2 separate regions of the Homo sapiens genome follow, and region 1 is linked to region 2. The links come from fine-mapping of genetic effects on gene expression. Tissue or cell type: whole blood. Region 2 holds a variant in brackets; the other region holds the start of a gene. All regions are shown on one strand. Distances are from middle to middle.

Region 1 (8,185 bases), 38 kb before region 2:
ATTCTGATCTGTAGAGAAGACTATTTTATTCCATTAGCTCCATTTTTTTCTCATCTGATGGCTACCTTCACATCTTAATAAACGTATGCAGCTAATAAATGTATGCAGCCATTCTTTTTTTTTTTTAGATGGAGTTTCTCTTGCCAGGCTGGAGTGCAGTGGCACAATCTCGGCTCACTGCAAGCTCCACCTCCCAGGTTCCAGCGATTCTCCTGCCTCAGCCTCCCAAGTAGCTGGGACTACAGTCACGTGCCACCACGCCCAGCTAATTTTTGTATTTTTAGTAGATATGGGGTTTCACCTTGTTGGCCAGAATGGTCTCGATCTCGACCTCATGATCCGCCTGCTTTGGCCTCCCAAAGTGCTGGCATTACAGGCGTGAGCCACCGCGAGTGCTGGGATTACAGGTATGAGCCACTGCGCCCGGCTGCAGCCATTCTTAATTAATTTTTGGGCATCTAAAGAATCTGCTTTCTTACCCCTTCACACATTCCTTAACCCCATCTTCTCATCTTGCTCATTTTAATAAATCAGTAAACAACATTTACCATTTCTATCACTCTGCAACTGTTGTTCATTATATAGTAGCCTTTAAAACTTAAAAAGGGAGGTACAAATTTTTCCCTTTGATTCCAGTAATTTATCCTCTATGGCAAAGTTTAAGTCTAATTTTCATTCGTACCTCTAACCGGGTGACTGAAAAATATATAAATATAAACCCGCTACAAATGGGACAGATCTTACTATGATAGGCTTCATAGATGGCCTTACTTTTCTTTTTCCTGTTCATGGTAGTGAAGGAAGATCATTTAAAGGAGGGGATATACAAATACACAAGGGAAATCTATTAATGGTAAATTGCATACCTAGGTGTAAATAAACTACCTCAGATCCTCTGTACTACGAATAAATACCAAACTGAATAAACTTAGGAATTGACCATCATCTATCTAACTTCTAGGGCTGTGATCATAAATGGCAGAATGTCTTATTTAGTGTTTCAACACTGGGGCAAAAGGGAGAACATATCCTTGTTAACATAAAAGAATATAGATACTGAAAAATAGATTTTTCATTTATCTAGAATTTTAAAATCTAGAATTCTAAAACAGAAAATTCCCCTATGTTCAAAATTGATGTCCATAATGATACTCGAAGCATTCTAAGTGTTTTCTGAATTGTGAAAGTTTAATTTTTTCCAGTCAAGTTTGCATTATACTTCAATTCATTAAACATGGTCACTGCTATGGTGACCACTGTAAATTAAATGGCCAGCAATTCAGTTAACAAGAACCCCATCTCCCTCCTTTCATGTATTTGTATAAATATAATTATTCTGAACAAATGTCACGGAAACATAAAAGTATGATACTCACACTTGGCATACAGACAGTCCATCATTGACTGCACTAAGTCCAGTTTGGCTTTTATGGAAAAGTTGATAAAGTTGGTATCAACGAGGATGTGGTAAGGTGGGCCCAGCTGTGTATTATATTGGAAAAATAAGCAGGAAGGGTGTTGGGGACTGAAGGAAAAAGAAAACAAGAACAAAGAAAAATTTACATTGATACCCTAGTATTAACAAAAACAAAAAAGAAGTCTGCTTGGGACTGTTTGCTGTAAACTCTTTTGTCCATGTTCATTGGAAATAAATCCTAAAAAGGAAGGCAAGGAAGAAAGTAATATCATTATCTTAATCTCAGCTCCCCTGGCAACCTTTGTCACCAACTTTAAAAAAGCAATTATCAAAAACAAACAAACAAAAAAAGCAATTATCCAATCTAGCTCTTCCTCTAGCAAAAGTAGAATCACCATGGGCACAGGGAGGTAGAATACAGTTATCGTGATTAGAATGATACAACAACACGTTTGTCATTCTTAAAGGATTCTAAAACTGCTGTTATGGAATGTGATAGAGAACAGTTTGTCTAGTGTTAGGATTATATACTACAGCAGGACCTGTATCACATCTAGCCCAAGTTGTCTGGGTTGAATATGACAGTGATTCCAAATGCTAGGCCATGGATCAGTATCTACCTGTGATAATATGTCCATTACCAATCCAGGGAAAAATTAGAAAAATAAGGAAAATGTGGTAAAGTTTTCATAAAGTTAAATGTACTTACTTAAAAGGAATGAAATACCTTTATATCTTTATATAAAGGTCATATCTTTATATAAATATCTTTATTCTGAAAATATATTTTAAATATTTTTTGGTGATACAGTCTCTCTTTTATGAACTGCTGGTGTGTTAAACAATGGCACTTATGTCTCTTAAAAGATCCCTGGCAAAGAAAAAGTTAATAATCCTAGATAATATCTCCAGGATTTTAGGGGAAATTTTACTGCTCCATAAAATCCCAAAACCTTCAAACCACTAGAATTGATATATGCTCATCGATATGACTTTCATCTACATAGTTGTGCTAGACTTACTAACAAATAAGTTAGCAAACCAGCTCAGGGAAAGCCTGGATTTCTAAGAGGTCTATGGTTTTAAAGGAAAACTTCAAACGTTTGATTACTCACACTTCTCTTTCCTTTAATGCGCTGGGATCCTTCTTTTCTTTCTTTTTAGGTTTTAATCTATCCTTTTCTTTACTAGGAAGAAAAAGGTAAATTAAATCCAAGGGAGAAGAAAAACCACAGCAATTAAAATCTCAAAAATCTAAAGTTCCATTTTTTTTTTTTTTTGGTCTACTGAAGAAATCCTACTTTGTGATATCCTCATGTTAATATCAGCATACTCTTTCTGAGCAAATAACTCTAGTGCAAAGCACAGTACCTGGAAGTATCAGAATTAACCAGTAATGCCAATAATGCATAAGAATTGTTAATGAGTAAATAAAAGCTGATTATACTATATTTATTTTTTAGTCAGAATCTCTCACATCAAGGATCACAATCCACTTCCAAGCAATGGGTAAAAGGGTGACAGTTATCTTCTGAAGATTCAGATGCTTTAACTTTTGGGGGAAAAGTATTACCCCATATGCTTCTTATAAAGGGCTAAAATGTAAAAACGCATATACAGAACTTAACCCTTAACTAGAAAGAAATTATTATTAATGGAGTGTCATTCCTAAAAATTACACAATACATCCACACTAAAGGCTGAGAATAATAATTCTGAAGGTTTTAACGACTATTCTCTTATTCTGAGACTCTTTTTTGTATTTTTAGTGGAGACAGGGTTTCACCGTGTTGGCCAGGCTGGTTTTGAACTCCTCACCTCAGGTGATCCACCCGCCTCAGCCTCCCAAAGTGCTGGGATTACAGGCGTGAGCCACTGCGCCCGGCTTTCTGAGACTCTTAAACTCAGTGAAGATCAGTCTTTATTTAATAGCTATGCTTATTCTACACTTAAGCAGGGACACCGCTTTGATCCTCTTCATACTAGGGAATTTCACTTCACTTTCTTCTTCCACAGTGATTTGGATTCTTATATTAGTAAGACTTATAAAATGGAGATATCTTGGAGTTTTCCCATTTTCTCTGACAAAAATATTTGAGTACCAGGCACTGGAAACGCCAGACAAACAAGGTCTCTAACCTTGCCATCTTTCAACAAGAAACACTCCCCTCGCCCCACCCCAGGGGAATGTAGTAGTGTAATGGTAAAAACATAAAGAGAACTATACGGACTTCACCGAACTGACATGAGGTTTAAATGCGATATGGCAGACAAAGCATATAACGGTAGAAAAAGTGAACACTTAAGAAATGTTTAATTCCCATCGCCTTTCCCAGTGTGATCGCTCAGCAGCTAAATTACTGTTAAACACTGGCTATCTCATGCTATATAAATCTAAGACACGATAATAAGCAAAAAACAAAATAATAACAACAAACATTTTTACTACTTATCCTCTCTAGACTCTTATTAGAATATCCCTGGGCAGTTGATTCCAGACACTCACAGCCTCTGATCTCTGAGACTAAGCATTCGCTTCATGGTCGCATACTTCCTTGTTTTCTTTTGCTTCCCCTTGAAACAGAAATTTTAGAATTAAAAAAGTTGGAAACACACGGCATCTTTTAAAGTCTCTTCTTTTCTCTTGTCTATTGCCTTCCCTTCTTGCCTCAAATAACCCAGACCCTCTTCCCCACTCTGTAAAGCATAACAGTCACCGCTTGGAGAAGTTTAAGAGCTAAGACCAGAATGAAAATATGCTAGGATAATGTGAAGGAAATTTGGCCACGGTCTGACTACCTCCTTCTCCACCCAAAAAGTGGCCTGATAACGTCCCTTCTTGGACCGTCTTCTCTCACCATGGTCACGCCAAACTCCTGGTTCTTCCGTAATCACCAACGGCGCAATACTTCTACGTCATTCACATACTGCTTCCGGCAAAGGATAGCCCGGAAGCGGAAACTCCTTGGGGAAAGGGCAATCCCCCGAGCCGGTTCCCAGGCCGGGTGGAGACCAACTCTGGGGTCTGTTGGTGGGAGAGTGGGGAGCCCGTCTTCTGCTGAGTGCTGCCGCCCCTTCCCAGGACAGCGGAGGTGGAACTTCGTCGCGCTGCAACCCCCGGCTCGGGTAACGTTTCTCTCCAGCCTTAGGCAGAGCCCAGAAGACCTGCCTTTACCAGAGTTCCAGAGAGAGAGGGAGGAAAAGGGTAGGGGGGTTCAGACTCCTGGTTTGCCCAGTAGTTTGGGGGAACACATTCTCCTCACCCTGTAGCGTTGGGGTATCCGGTGTCTATGGTCCAGCCCTGAGGCTGTGGTTCCTATTTGGTTTTCCTAGCCGATATGGTGCTTTGTGCAGCTAGGTGGATGATTGTTCTCGAGTATATACCGTGTACTCCTCTCGGTGAAGAGAGAAATGAAGCAGTGTTTGAGGGCCTAGACTATCGCTAGAGAATTGGGGCATAAGCTTGCATATGTTACTACTTACCCAAGCCAAGAAAATGGTGAGATACAATGCACATTTATTGTGAAGCCTTGGTGTGTCATCTTTAAGTAAAAAGGGAGAATTTGTGAGAACAAGGAGCGAAAGGTAGCTTTTTTCTTTGAGTACCTGCTATGTATTCCAGTGGTTCTTAACTTTTTGGAGATAACTTATTTCTTGAAAGTTTGTGGAAAGCCAGGAACAATTCTTTAAAAAATGGGCACACATACAGTTTGTAATACACTTAATGAGATTGGTGGACTCTGAAGCCCATCCGTGGACCCTCTGGGTGTCTGTAAACTTTAAATGAAAACCCCCATCCTGTATACTGTACTTGTCACTTTATTCATATTACCTTCTTTGACCTTCTCAATAACATAAATTCTTTTATTTTACATATGGGGAAATTGAGCCCCAGACTTTGTTCAGGGGTCTGTTTGAGTCTCGTGATTCCAAAGTCTGTACTTGTATTTCTTTTTTTCTTTTTCTTTCTTTCTTTCTTTCTTTTTTTTTCTTTTTTTTTTTTTTTTTTTTTTTTTTTTTGCACTTTGTCTTCCATTCTCCAGCTACTGATCAAGCTGGGAACGGAATGGGTACCTCTGTCATACTTTTCTTATTGCATGATGCTATCCTAGAGTTGGAAGTAAAATATGTTATCAGGTTTAAAAAAGAAGGTGACCATTGTATAACCCTTATGATGAAAACACGTTTATTGTTTAACACGAACTTTGGAGTCTGACTGATGGGGTTAAAATCCTTGCTCTGCCTTATAACTCGCCATGACATTGGGTGAGTTAATCTATCTGCATCTCAGTTTCTTTATCTGTAAAATGGAGATAATCATAGTAGCACTCTTTTATTGGGATGTTATCAGGACTTATGTTTATTCATAGTTAACATGCGAGGTCCCTAGAAGAGTGTAAACCAGACTACTCAGAGTGTTTTCTGTTGTTACCATTGTGTGTCTTCCAACTTGAGGATGTGTGGCAGGGTTGGAATTTTATGCCAATTTTATTTTATTTTATTTTATTTTATTTTTGAGACAGAGCCTCCCTCTGCTGCCCAGGTTGGAGTGCAGTGGCGCAATCTCGGCTCACAGCAACCTCCCCCTCCCAGGTTCAAGCAATTCTCCTGCCTCAGCCTCCCGAGTAGCTGGGACTGCAGGCATGTGTGTGCCACCATACCTTGCTAATTTTTGTATTTTTAATAGAGATGGGTTTCACCATGTTGGCAAGGCTGGTCTCAAACTCCTGACCTCAGGTGATCTGCCCACCTCGGCCTCCCAAAGTTCTGGGATTACAGACGTGAGCCACTGTGCCAAGCCCCAATTTTTTTTTTTTTTTTTTGAGACGGAGTTAGTTTCGCTCTTGTTACCCAGGCTGGAGTGCAATGGCGCAATCTCGGCTCACTGCAACCTCCACCTCCCAGGTTTAAGCGATTCTCCTGCCTCAGCCTCCTGAGTAGCTGGGATTACAGGCGTGCGCCAACACGCCTGGCTGATTTTATATTTTTAGTAGAGACGGGGTTTCTCCATGTTGGTCAGACTGGTCTTGAACTCCCGACCTCAGGTGATCCGCCCACCTTGGCCTCCCAAAGTGCTGGGATTACAGGCGTGAGCCACCGTGCCTGGCACCAGCCCAATTTTATTTTAACATAGTTGCACTGGAACTTGAACGTGTTCATAAACCTCAAAACATTAAGTTTTCAGGTCCTGGGATGCTCAATCGCAGGGTGATTTCTTCTGTTGATTTGGGTGTAAACTTTTTCTGCTTCTCCTTTCTCTTTCAGGCACACATTCATTTAGATGGCTTAATAGTTTACATATCTGTGGGCACTGAATTTTTGATGTAGAAATGGTAGCTACAGATACTGTATGTGCCTTCTGCTTTACCCCATTTGTGGTCACTAGAAGTTCCTAATCTTTCTGGAGCAGCTTGTCTCTGTCAAGCTGCCATTCATGTGTAGAGCTAATAGCAACCAGTTTTTTGATGTATCTCTTGGTGATTAGACAATAAGCTTTTTATTGTCTAAAAGCTAAAATAACATGGTCAGTTATTCTTCTTAAACATTTGACTCATTAGTATTATATATAGGTTCAGAGGGAAAATTGCATATCATTAAATAGTAATTTGCATTTAAATTTAGGCACTGACAGAAAAACGCTCTTCTGGTAATGTGTACTTTGAATTTTGGAATCCATGAACAACAACAACTTAAAAAAAGGCCATTTGTAATTTCTATTGTAACCTCTATTGAGAGTGTTCTGATTTCCTTGATTGTTAATACCTAATAGGGAGCTAAATTAGTGTAGGAACACCATGGGGGATAAGAACATACTTAGAAAAATTTGTTTTTGTTGCATTGTAATTTTATTGCAATCTGAGGTTCTTATAGCGTGAAATGAAAGTGGTCAGATACTCTACAGCATTCTTTGATGGGGATGGAAAGTGGGGGATGCGAAGCTGGGAGGTAGTGTTGATTTGTGATGGATGGGAGCAGAAAGTAATTGCTTTTGGGCACATACTTGTGAGGAAAAGAAATGATTTTAGTCCTTCTCAGCAGTCAAGAGGGTTGTTTTGCATTTTTCTGCAGTCTTGAAGAGAAAAAATCACCCAAGGCATTGGACACACAGTTTGAACACATAATTGGGCTTGGACTTCATTCCATTCACTAATTGGTCTAACTTACTAATTTAAGTTGGTATCAAATTTCTTTGTAAAATTATTCTGGATAATGAAAGACTCCTTAAAGAACATCTTGTATTTCAATGTTAGAAAGTTATAAGTAGATTCACTTTTTTGTCCATTTTCAAGTTATAGTTTTTACATTTATTTTTCTGACTTACATGATAGGACTTTTTTTCTCCCAACAAACATTAGTCGCTGTTAATTATTTTTCAATTAACTTGCCTGCCCCTAAATGTGGTAGCATGGCATACAGCATGTTCTGCTTCTGAGGTCTTGATATTGAATTGGTTTGTAAGAATACCTCAGAGATAGATTACTGCCGCTTGGTCATTCATTCAGAAAGCATTTATTGAGGGCCCATTCTGTCCTGGGCAATCTCACCACAGTCCTGTATTACAGAAAGACTTGTAAATAGGTAAAGTATGGTTGGTGGCTGAATAGAGATGTGGGAGTTGAAATATTTTAGAGGAATTACTCTTCTTGTTCATCTTTCTGTAAGTGGTCCAGGTCAGAGTACTGTTGTGTAATATTTATTTAATACTATCAACATATTAGTACCATGTAATAGATCAGATTTTATGACCTTAATGGACTCTAGTGTATC
Region 2 (8,185 bases):
AAGTGCTAGGATTACAGGCATGAACCACCGTGCCCGGCCCATTTTGGCTTTTTACTGTTGACTTTTGAGAGTTCTGTATATATTCTATATGCTAGTCCTTTGTTAAACATATGGTCTGCAAATATTTTCTCCCCATCTGTAGCTTTTCTTTATTTCTTTTTGGAGACAGGGTATCACTCTGTCACCCATGATGGCGTGCAGTAGCATAGTCATGGCTCACTGCAGCCTTGACCTCTCCCGGCTTAGGTGATCTCCCATCTCAGCCTCCCAAGTTGCTGGGACTGTGGCATGTGCCACCACACCTGGCTAATTTTTATATTTTTTGTAGAGATGGGGCTTTGCCATGTTGCTCAGGCTGAGCTTTTCTTCTTATTCCCTTAACAGAGTTATTCACAGAGCACATGTTTTCAATTTTGATGAAATCCACTTTCTGAGGTGGGAGAATCACTTGAGCCCAGGAGTTCAAGACCGGCCTGGGCAACATAGTGAGACCTCATCTCTACAAAAAATTTATAAATTAGCTGGGTGTGGTGGCGTGCACCTTTAGTCCCAGCTACTGGGGAGTAGGGTGGAGAAGTGAGGTGGTAGGATAACAAGCCCAGGAGGTTGAGGCTGCAGTGAGCTGTGATCTTGCCACTACACTCCAGCCTGGGTGACAAAGTGAGACCCTGTCTCAAAAAAGAAAGAAAGAAATCCAGTGCATCCATTTTTTTCTTTTATGGTCAAACTGTTGGTGTCTAAGAAATCTTTGGTCTCAGATCCTGAAGATGTTCTCTTTTTTTCCCAAAAGTTTTTACAGTTTGAAAATGTGTATTTAGGGTCATGATCCATTTTTAGTTAATTTTAATAGATTTGGGTCAAGGTCCTCTTTTTTTTTTTTTTTTTTTTGCTTATACATGTCTTTACTCCAGCATCATTTGTTGGAAAGGTGATCTTTCATTTTCTATTACATTGCTTTTGTACCTTTATCAAAAAGCAGTTGGACATATTTGTGGGGGCTTATTTCATTAATCTGTGTACCTATCCCTCCTCCAGTACCACAGAATCTTGATTTCTGTAGCTCCCTCTTCTTTTCTTTTTTTTTTTTGAGGCAGGGTCTCACTCTGTCACCCAGGCTGAGTGCAGTGGTGCGATCATGATTCACTGCAGCCTTGGCCTCCTGGGTTCAAGTGATCCTCCTGCCTCAACCTCCCGAGTAGCTGGGACTACAGGCGTGCACCACCGTGCTTAGCTAATTTTTTATCTTTTTTGTAGGAATAGGGTCTCACTATGTTGCCCAGGGTGGTCTCGAACTCCTGGACTCAAGTAATCTTCCTGCTTTGGCCTTCCAAAGTGTTGGGATTACAGGCGTGAGCCAAGTCACACAGCCTGATTACTGTAGCTCTTATAATAAGTCTTGAAATTGGTAAGCTGACTCCACTTTATTCTTCTTTTTCAAAATTGTTTTAGTATTCTAGTTCCTTTGCCTTTCCATTTAAATTTTAGAATAATCTTAACTAAATCTATAAATAATCTTGCTGGAACTTTGATAAGAATTGTGTTAAACCTATATATCAATTTGGGGAAAATTGACATCTGTACTATGTTGGATCTTCCATAAACATGTCTCCATTTGTTTAGTTGTTTGTTGGTTTTTTTGTTTTATTTCTTCCAAGTTTTTTTCATTTTACTTAGGGTTTGCAGTGGTTAAGAATTTGTAACAAAAATAATTCCCCAAATTCATTTAAATTTCTCTATTTCTGTTTTTTCCTCTTTTTTTTTTTTTTAATAAAGAGACAGGGTTAGCTGGGCACCGTGGCTTACGCCTGTAATTCCAGCACTTTGGGAGGCCGAGGCGGGCAAATTACAAGGTGGGGAGTTTGAGACCAGCCTGGCCAATATGGTGAAACGCTGTCTCTACTAAAAATACAAAAATTAGCTGGGTGTAGTGGCGGGTGCCTGTAGTCCCAGCTACTCAGCTGAGGCAGGAGAATCGCTTGAACCCGACAGGCAGAGGTTGCAGTGAGCCGAGATCGTGCCACTGCATTCCAGCTTGGGTGACAGAGCGTGACTCTGTCTCAAAAAAAAAAAAAAAAAAAAAAAAGGAGAGAGACAGGGTCTCCCTTTGTCACACAGGCTAGAATGCAATGGTGTGGTCATAGCTCACTGTAGCCTTTACCTCCTGGGCAAAAGTGATCCTCTTGCCTTAGCTTCCTGAGTAGCTGGGACACAGGCATGAACCACCATGCCTGGCTAATTTTTATTTTTTGTAGAGATGGTCTTGCTATGTTGCTCAAGCTGGTCTTGAACTTCTTAAGGGATCCTTAAGGGATTCTCTGGCCTTGGCCTCCCAAAGTGCTGGGATTACACGTGTGAGCCACCGCACCTGGCCTCTCTTCCTCTTGATAGTGTTATTTATCCCTAGGAATTGGGAGGAAACCTAGCTTTCTAGGACCCACTGAGCAGATCTTTGTGCCCTGAAGAGCACCTTTAAATGTTAGATTCCAGCCGGGCGTGGTGGCTCACGCCTGTAATCCCAGCACTTTGGGAGGCCAAGGCGGGCGGATCAGGAGGTCAGGAGATCGAGACTATCCTGGCTAACACAGTGAAACCCCGTCTCCACTAAAAATACAAAAAAAAATTCTCTGGGCATGGTGGCGGGCACCTATAGTCCCAGCTACTCGGGAGGCTGAGGCAGGAGAATGGCATGAGCCCGGAAGGCAGAGCTTGCAGTGAGCCGAGATTGCGCCACTGCACTCCAGCCTGGGCGAAAGAGCGAGACTCCATCTCAAAAAAAATAAAAATAAAAAAATAAAATAAATAAATGTTAGATTCCATTGTCTTTGTTCCAGGAATGGTGGTTCCTTCTAAGACCAAAATTGTGTGCCACTTTTCTACTCTTGTATTGACCTGTGGGCAGCCGCACACCCTTCAAATAGTACCCCGAGATGAGTATGATAATCCCACCAACAATTCCATGTCCTTGAGAGATGAGCACAATTACACCTTGTCCATTCATGAGGTAAGCAGTCTCCCTTCTTTATCTGTGTGCTAGAGAGAGCTGGCTCCTTTCTCTGTTATTCTCACACCTAATTCACTTCGATCTCTCTTTCCTTCTCCTTGACTTCTGTGCTGTCTGTATCTTCATCTGACAATACCTGTCTCATTAGTAATTTTGTGATTTAGATTAGATCATAGATAGGAAAGCTCTTTGTAAGGAGTAAAGTGGCTTGTAAATGGGAAAATACTATATGTTAAGTGATGCTCTGTTGCCTTCCTATAGCTCGGCCCTCAAGAAGAAGAGAGTACTGGTGTCTCATTTGAGAAATCAGTAACATCCAACAGGCAGACTTTCCAGGTGTTCTTGCGACTCACCCTGCATTCTCGAGGCTGCTTCCATGCTTGCATTTCATACCAAAATCAGCCAATCAATAATGGTGAATTTGACATTATTGTCCTAAGTGGTAAGTTAAAAGAAAAGTATGATTTAGTGCTGTTCTTCAGCCGTTTCTTTGCCTGTTTGCACTCTTTTGTCTGACCTCACAAACATTTGATATTTGGGCCACATTTGGCTTGTCCTGTGGACTAAAAGCCTGTGATAGGTAATTTTTTTCTTCTCTGACTTCTACTTTAAACCTTATTCCTTATTATACTTCAGAGGATGAGAAGAATATCGTCGAACGCAATGTGTCCACTTCAGG[C/T]GTGAGCATTTACTTTGAGGCTTATCTTTATAATGCTACCAACTGTAGCAGCACTCCATGGCACCTGCCACCCATGCACATGACCTCTTCCCAGCGCCGGCCATCCACTGCTGTTGACGAGGAAGATGAAGACTCGCCCTCTGAGTGCCACACCCCTGAGAAGGTGAAGAAACCGAAGAAGGTGTACTGCTATGTGTCACCAAAGGTTGGACCTTCCATTCTCGACATAAAATCCCCCTGCTTGAACCTGTGTGTAATTGGTATTTGGTAGCAGAAACCACAAAGTAACAGTCTGAGAATCAGGGCAAGATTGTTAACTAGTTGTATAGAAAGCCACTTTCAACTGTTAAAAATTTCTTGCTAGCATAAAAATTACTGTTGGCTTCTTGTGCTGTGTCAAAACAATTTGATCTTTTGTTCTGTGATTCATGAAACCACAGTAAATGGATGTCACTATTAGGCTACAGGATTGGAGTAAAGAAATTTTGGCAGAGGAAAGAAGGTGAATTTCCCAAGCCCCTGAGCTAAGAAGCACTTTGTGTTAGTTTCTTTTTAATATTTGTTTTTCCTTATTCATTCAGTCCTCATAAAAATGAGACTCTGTGAAACATCCCATTGCATCTCTTTAATCTCATAACCAAAACTGAGTTCTAATTCTGTTCTACTTCAGAACACTTTGCTGTGTACCATTCTTCATTTAAAAATCTAGCCTTAATTTGGACTAGGGGTGATGGTAATGAGGGAAATGGGTAAGTGAATAAATGAAACAAGATTGGCTATGAATTGATAATTGTTGAAGCAGCTGATAGTTTCATTATACTTCTTTGTCTTCTTTAGTATGTGTTTGAAATTTTCTTTAAACTTTTTTTTATCAAGAAAACAACTGACCTGCACATTCAGATAAAAGGGATTTTTTAAGATTAAAAAATTTTTGCATTGTCTTTTCCTCTTTTGTATGAACTTTTTTGTGTGAGGACCTTCCCCTATACCACCAACATATTCCACTCCAGCTCACCCCATCTTGCCTCCCTTCCCTGGCAGATCCTTGGCACCATTCAAATAGGTATAAAGCAGTGTGTATGGGTTGCTGGTGTTTGCTATCCAGTAACTTGGAGGAAGTCATTCTGAGCATCATGGGGCTGAGCAGAAGGAGATTTTGATTGTTTCTAGGTGAAATATTCTGTTCTCATAAAGTGAAAACCTGATCCCAGATATTTAGAAAGACTTGAGTATTACAATTATGAAATATCTCTGTGTGAAACTGCATTGTCAGTCATATTTTTTTTATTTATTTTATTTTTTGAGACAGGGTCTCACTTTGTCACCCATGCTGGAGTGCCATGGTCCAATCTCAGCTCACTGCACCCTCTGCCTCCCGGGTTCAAGCGATTCTTGTGCCTCAGCCTCCCGAGTACTTGGGATTACAGGCATGAGCTACCGCACCCAGCTAATTTTTTTGTATTTTTAGTAGAGACTGAGTTTTGCCATGTTGGCCAGGCTGGTCTTGAACTCCTGGCCTCAAGTGATCTGCCTGCCTCGGCCTCCCAAAGTGCTGAGATTATAGATGTGAGCCATCCACACTTGGCCATCAGGGTAATATTTTTAATTTGCCTTTTTAAATAGAGAGTTAATGTATTTATTTGACTTTAGTACTCACTAAATTATTACTTTTGTCCATGGAGAGGAAAGGTTATGAGAAATGTAAATAGGGACTATGATATTTGAATTAGAATACCCAAATAGAGCCTTTTTATTTATCATTCACTTCATTTCCTGTCTGTTGGTCCTCCAGCAATTCTCAGTGAAGGAGTTCTACCTGAAGATCATCCCCTGGCGCCTTTACACCTTCCGAGTGTGTCCAGGAACAAAAGTAAGCTGAACCTTACATCTGGTTCACATCAAGCATGCTTCATCTCTGGACTATCTCAGCCTTTTATTTTTTCTCAGAAGCACTTTTAGTGTTTCTGCAAGATCTCACAGTGTACACAGGATTCGTTGCCAAATAAAGCATCATTATCTCCTCACTAAATGGCATGAAGAATATATAAATTCTGGAAGGACGCATGCCTACAGAAACAGGAATTAGCAGCAACTCAGAATACTTCAACAGTGATCCTTTGCCTTCAAGACTAAGTTAATAGAGAAGATGTTTGTAACTCTGGCCCAAGCTTGGTCTCCCAGTGTGCTGAAGCTAACTCCTTTTAGAAGCACCACTCTCATATATTAAAATACATTGTTTGTTTGTTGTTAACTTTTCTGGGCTTCTGGAATCTAAACTTTTGCCCAAAGGCTAGAATGTGCCATTTTATAAAAATAGTTTTCTTCTGATCAGTTTGGAGTAGTCATTTATTGCTGTTTAATATATCCTTACTATTGCTATTTAATATATCACCGTATTGCCATTTATTGCTATTTAACATATCACCCTTCTTATATTTTATGTTAGAAGGTCTGTAGTTTTGCTGGTGGTCCTAACTAAAGGCAGTCTCTGTGACTAAAATAATTTTAAATGTTGAAATGTAAATCACTGAAGGGAAAAATAATGAAATGTATTTCTGGTAGGTCCTCATTTGGAGAAAACAAGCCTAACTTATTGTTGTTGGTTGGTACACAGGATAGAGCTGTGGAGGACTTTTACTGGCCTTGAGGGTTTTATAGATTAATTTCTTTGTTTTTCTTTACCAGTTTTCATACCTTGGTCCTGACCCTGTCCATAAGCTGCTCACACTGGTGGTGGATGATGGCATTCAACCTCCTGTGGAGCTCAGCTGTAAGGAGAGGAACATTCTAGCAGCCACTTTTATCCGCTCCCTGCATAAGAACATAGGTGAGGTTACACAGGGATTCTATAGGGAAGGTAGTGAGCCCAGCCACATCCATGAGGGTGGAGAGGCAGGACTACACAGATGGCTTGTAATGAGGCTGTAATGATGGATCTTGCTGTTCCCCAGGAGGCTCTGAGACCTTTCAGGACAAGGTGAACTTTTTCCAGCGAGAGCTTCGGCAGGTACATATGAAAAGACCACATTCCAAAGTCACCCTGAAGGTCAGCAGACATGCCTTGTTGGAATCGGTAGGTAAAATTTCATCTCTGTCAGCAGATACCAAAGTTTTCCAATTGAATGTCTATATTCTGCAGGTTACTGTTTTTGTTTTTGTTTTTGTTTGGGAGATAGGGTCTCACTCTATTGCCCAGGCTGGGGTGCAGAGGTGCGATCATGGCTCACTGCAGCCTCGATCTTCCCGGGCTGTGATCCTCCCAACTCAGCCTCCCAAATAGCTGGGACTATAGGTATGTGTCACCATGCCTGGCTAATTTTTGTATTTTTTGTAAAGATGGGATTTTGCCATATTGCTCCGGCTGGTCTCGAACTCCTGGACTCAAGTGATACACCCGCCTCAGCCTCCCAAAGTGTTGGGATTACAGGCATGAGCTACCATGCCTGATCTGGTTATCTTTTTCATGAAACTTAAATTTCTCTGTTTAAGTAAAGATATAGATATACTTATAAAAGACAGATATACTTATAAAAGACAGATATACTAAATTTCTGAAACCTAAATTTCTCTCTTTACATATGTCTGTTCTTCTATTTGATTCTACTAAATTTGGGGCAGTTTTGTTGGAGGTATGTTATCGAGGGAAGAGCAGTTTACTTACTGGCCTTCAAATCTACTGAATGGGTCCCTTGGAACTCCCATGTAGGGCAGGTGTAAATAGTGATTACAGAAGAAACTTCTTGTTATTGAATCCCTGGAATAGAGCGCTTGTTGAATTAAAAGGAAATGATTTTTGTTGTCACTTTGGTCTGATGGAAAAGGAACACCTGATGTGTGTCTGTCTCCACTGCACAGACACTGGCATAGTTCTTACATTCCCCAGGAATGAGAAGGCTTGGTTCCTGTCCAGAAAGTGTTTGTGATGTTTGGCTCTGGTAGGTGTGACTGGAAACCCGTTTTCTCAGCCATATTCTCCGTGTGGCATGGCTCGCTGTCTGAACCTAGCCTTGTGGATAAATATGTCTAGTGGATAGATCATACTTTGCTGAAAACCAGGATTCCTTGGTTCTTTTGCCTACAGCTTACTGACTTGAGTCATTTTTTACTTCTTTATGCAAGAATGTTTTCATTGCTAAAACAAGGATTGTTTAAAACAAAAGGAAAAGAAAAAAACAACTTCAGCTTTCCAACAAAGTGATGATGTAAAGGCAAATCAGATTATTTTTTAAAACTTTAAATTTGAAGTTATGTGCATTTTAAATGTCAGGTGGTATCATTAAAGCTTGTTTATGAGTAACATATCTCCTTCAGGCAGTCGTAGTTAGTCCAGCAGACAATGGCAGTGCTCTTGTGTTGTCTTTAACATCCAGAGGACACCAGCCAGTGTTCTGACAATTCCCTTCCTTTCACTTCTTTTCAGTCTCTGAAAGCCACTCGGAATTTCTCCATCTCAGATTGGAGCAAGAACTTTGAGGTTGTTTTCCAGGATGAAGAAGGTCAGTTTT

The links. PIP is the estimated chance that this variant, and not a neighbour inherited with it, causes the effect.
Region 1: AREL1 starts here. The variant in region 2 is fine-mapped to the expression of AREL1 in whole blood (TOPMed, PIP above 0.99).

The regions. Positions count from the first base shown.
Region 1 is chr14:74,709,291-74,717,475 of GRCh38, reverse strand. AREL1 (apoptosis resistant E3 ubiquitin protein ligase 1) reads left to right here and starts at 4,396. Exons shown (of 20, transcript NM_001039479.2): 1 at 4,396-4,543. FCF1 (FCF1 rRNA-processing protein) reads right to left here and starts at 4,332. Exons shown (of 8, transcript NM_015962.5): 1 at 4,276-4,332; 2 at 3,924-3,991; 3 at 2,533-2,604; 4 at 1,377-1,525. The coding sequence starts at 4,278. RefSeq lists an enhancer at 4,219-4,498.
Region 2 is chr14:74,671,399-74,679,583 of GRCh38, reverse strand. AREL1 (apoptosis resistant E3 ubiquitin protein ligase 1) reads left to right here. Exons shown (of 20, transcript NM_001039479.2): 6 at 2,832-3,001; 7 at 3,263-3,443; 8 at 3,638-3,885; 9 at 5,473-5,550; 10 at 6,366-6,507; 11 at 6,632-6,753; 12 at 8,101-8,176. Among named protein-coding and RNA genes, the nearest start is that of AREL1, 38 kb to the left of the region's middle. The variant C/T (reference allele first, on the strand shown) is at 3,681.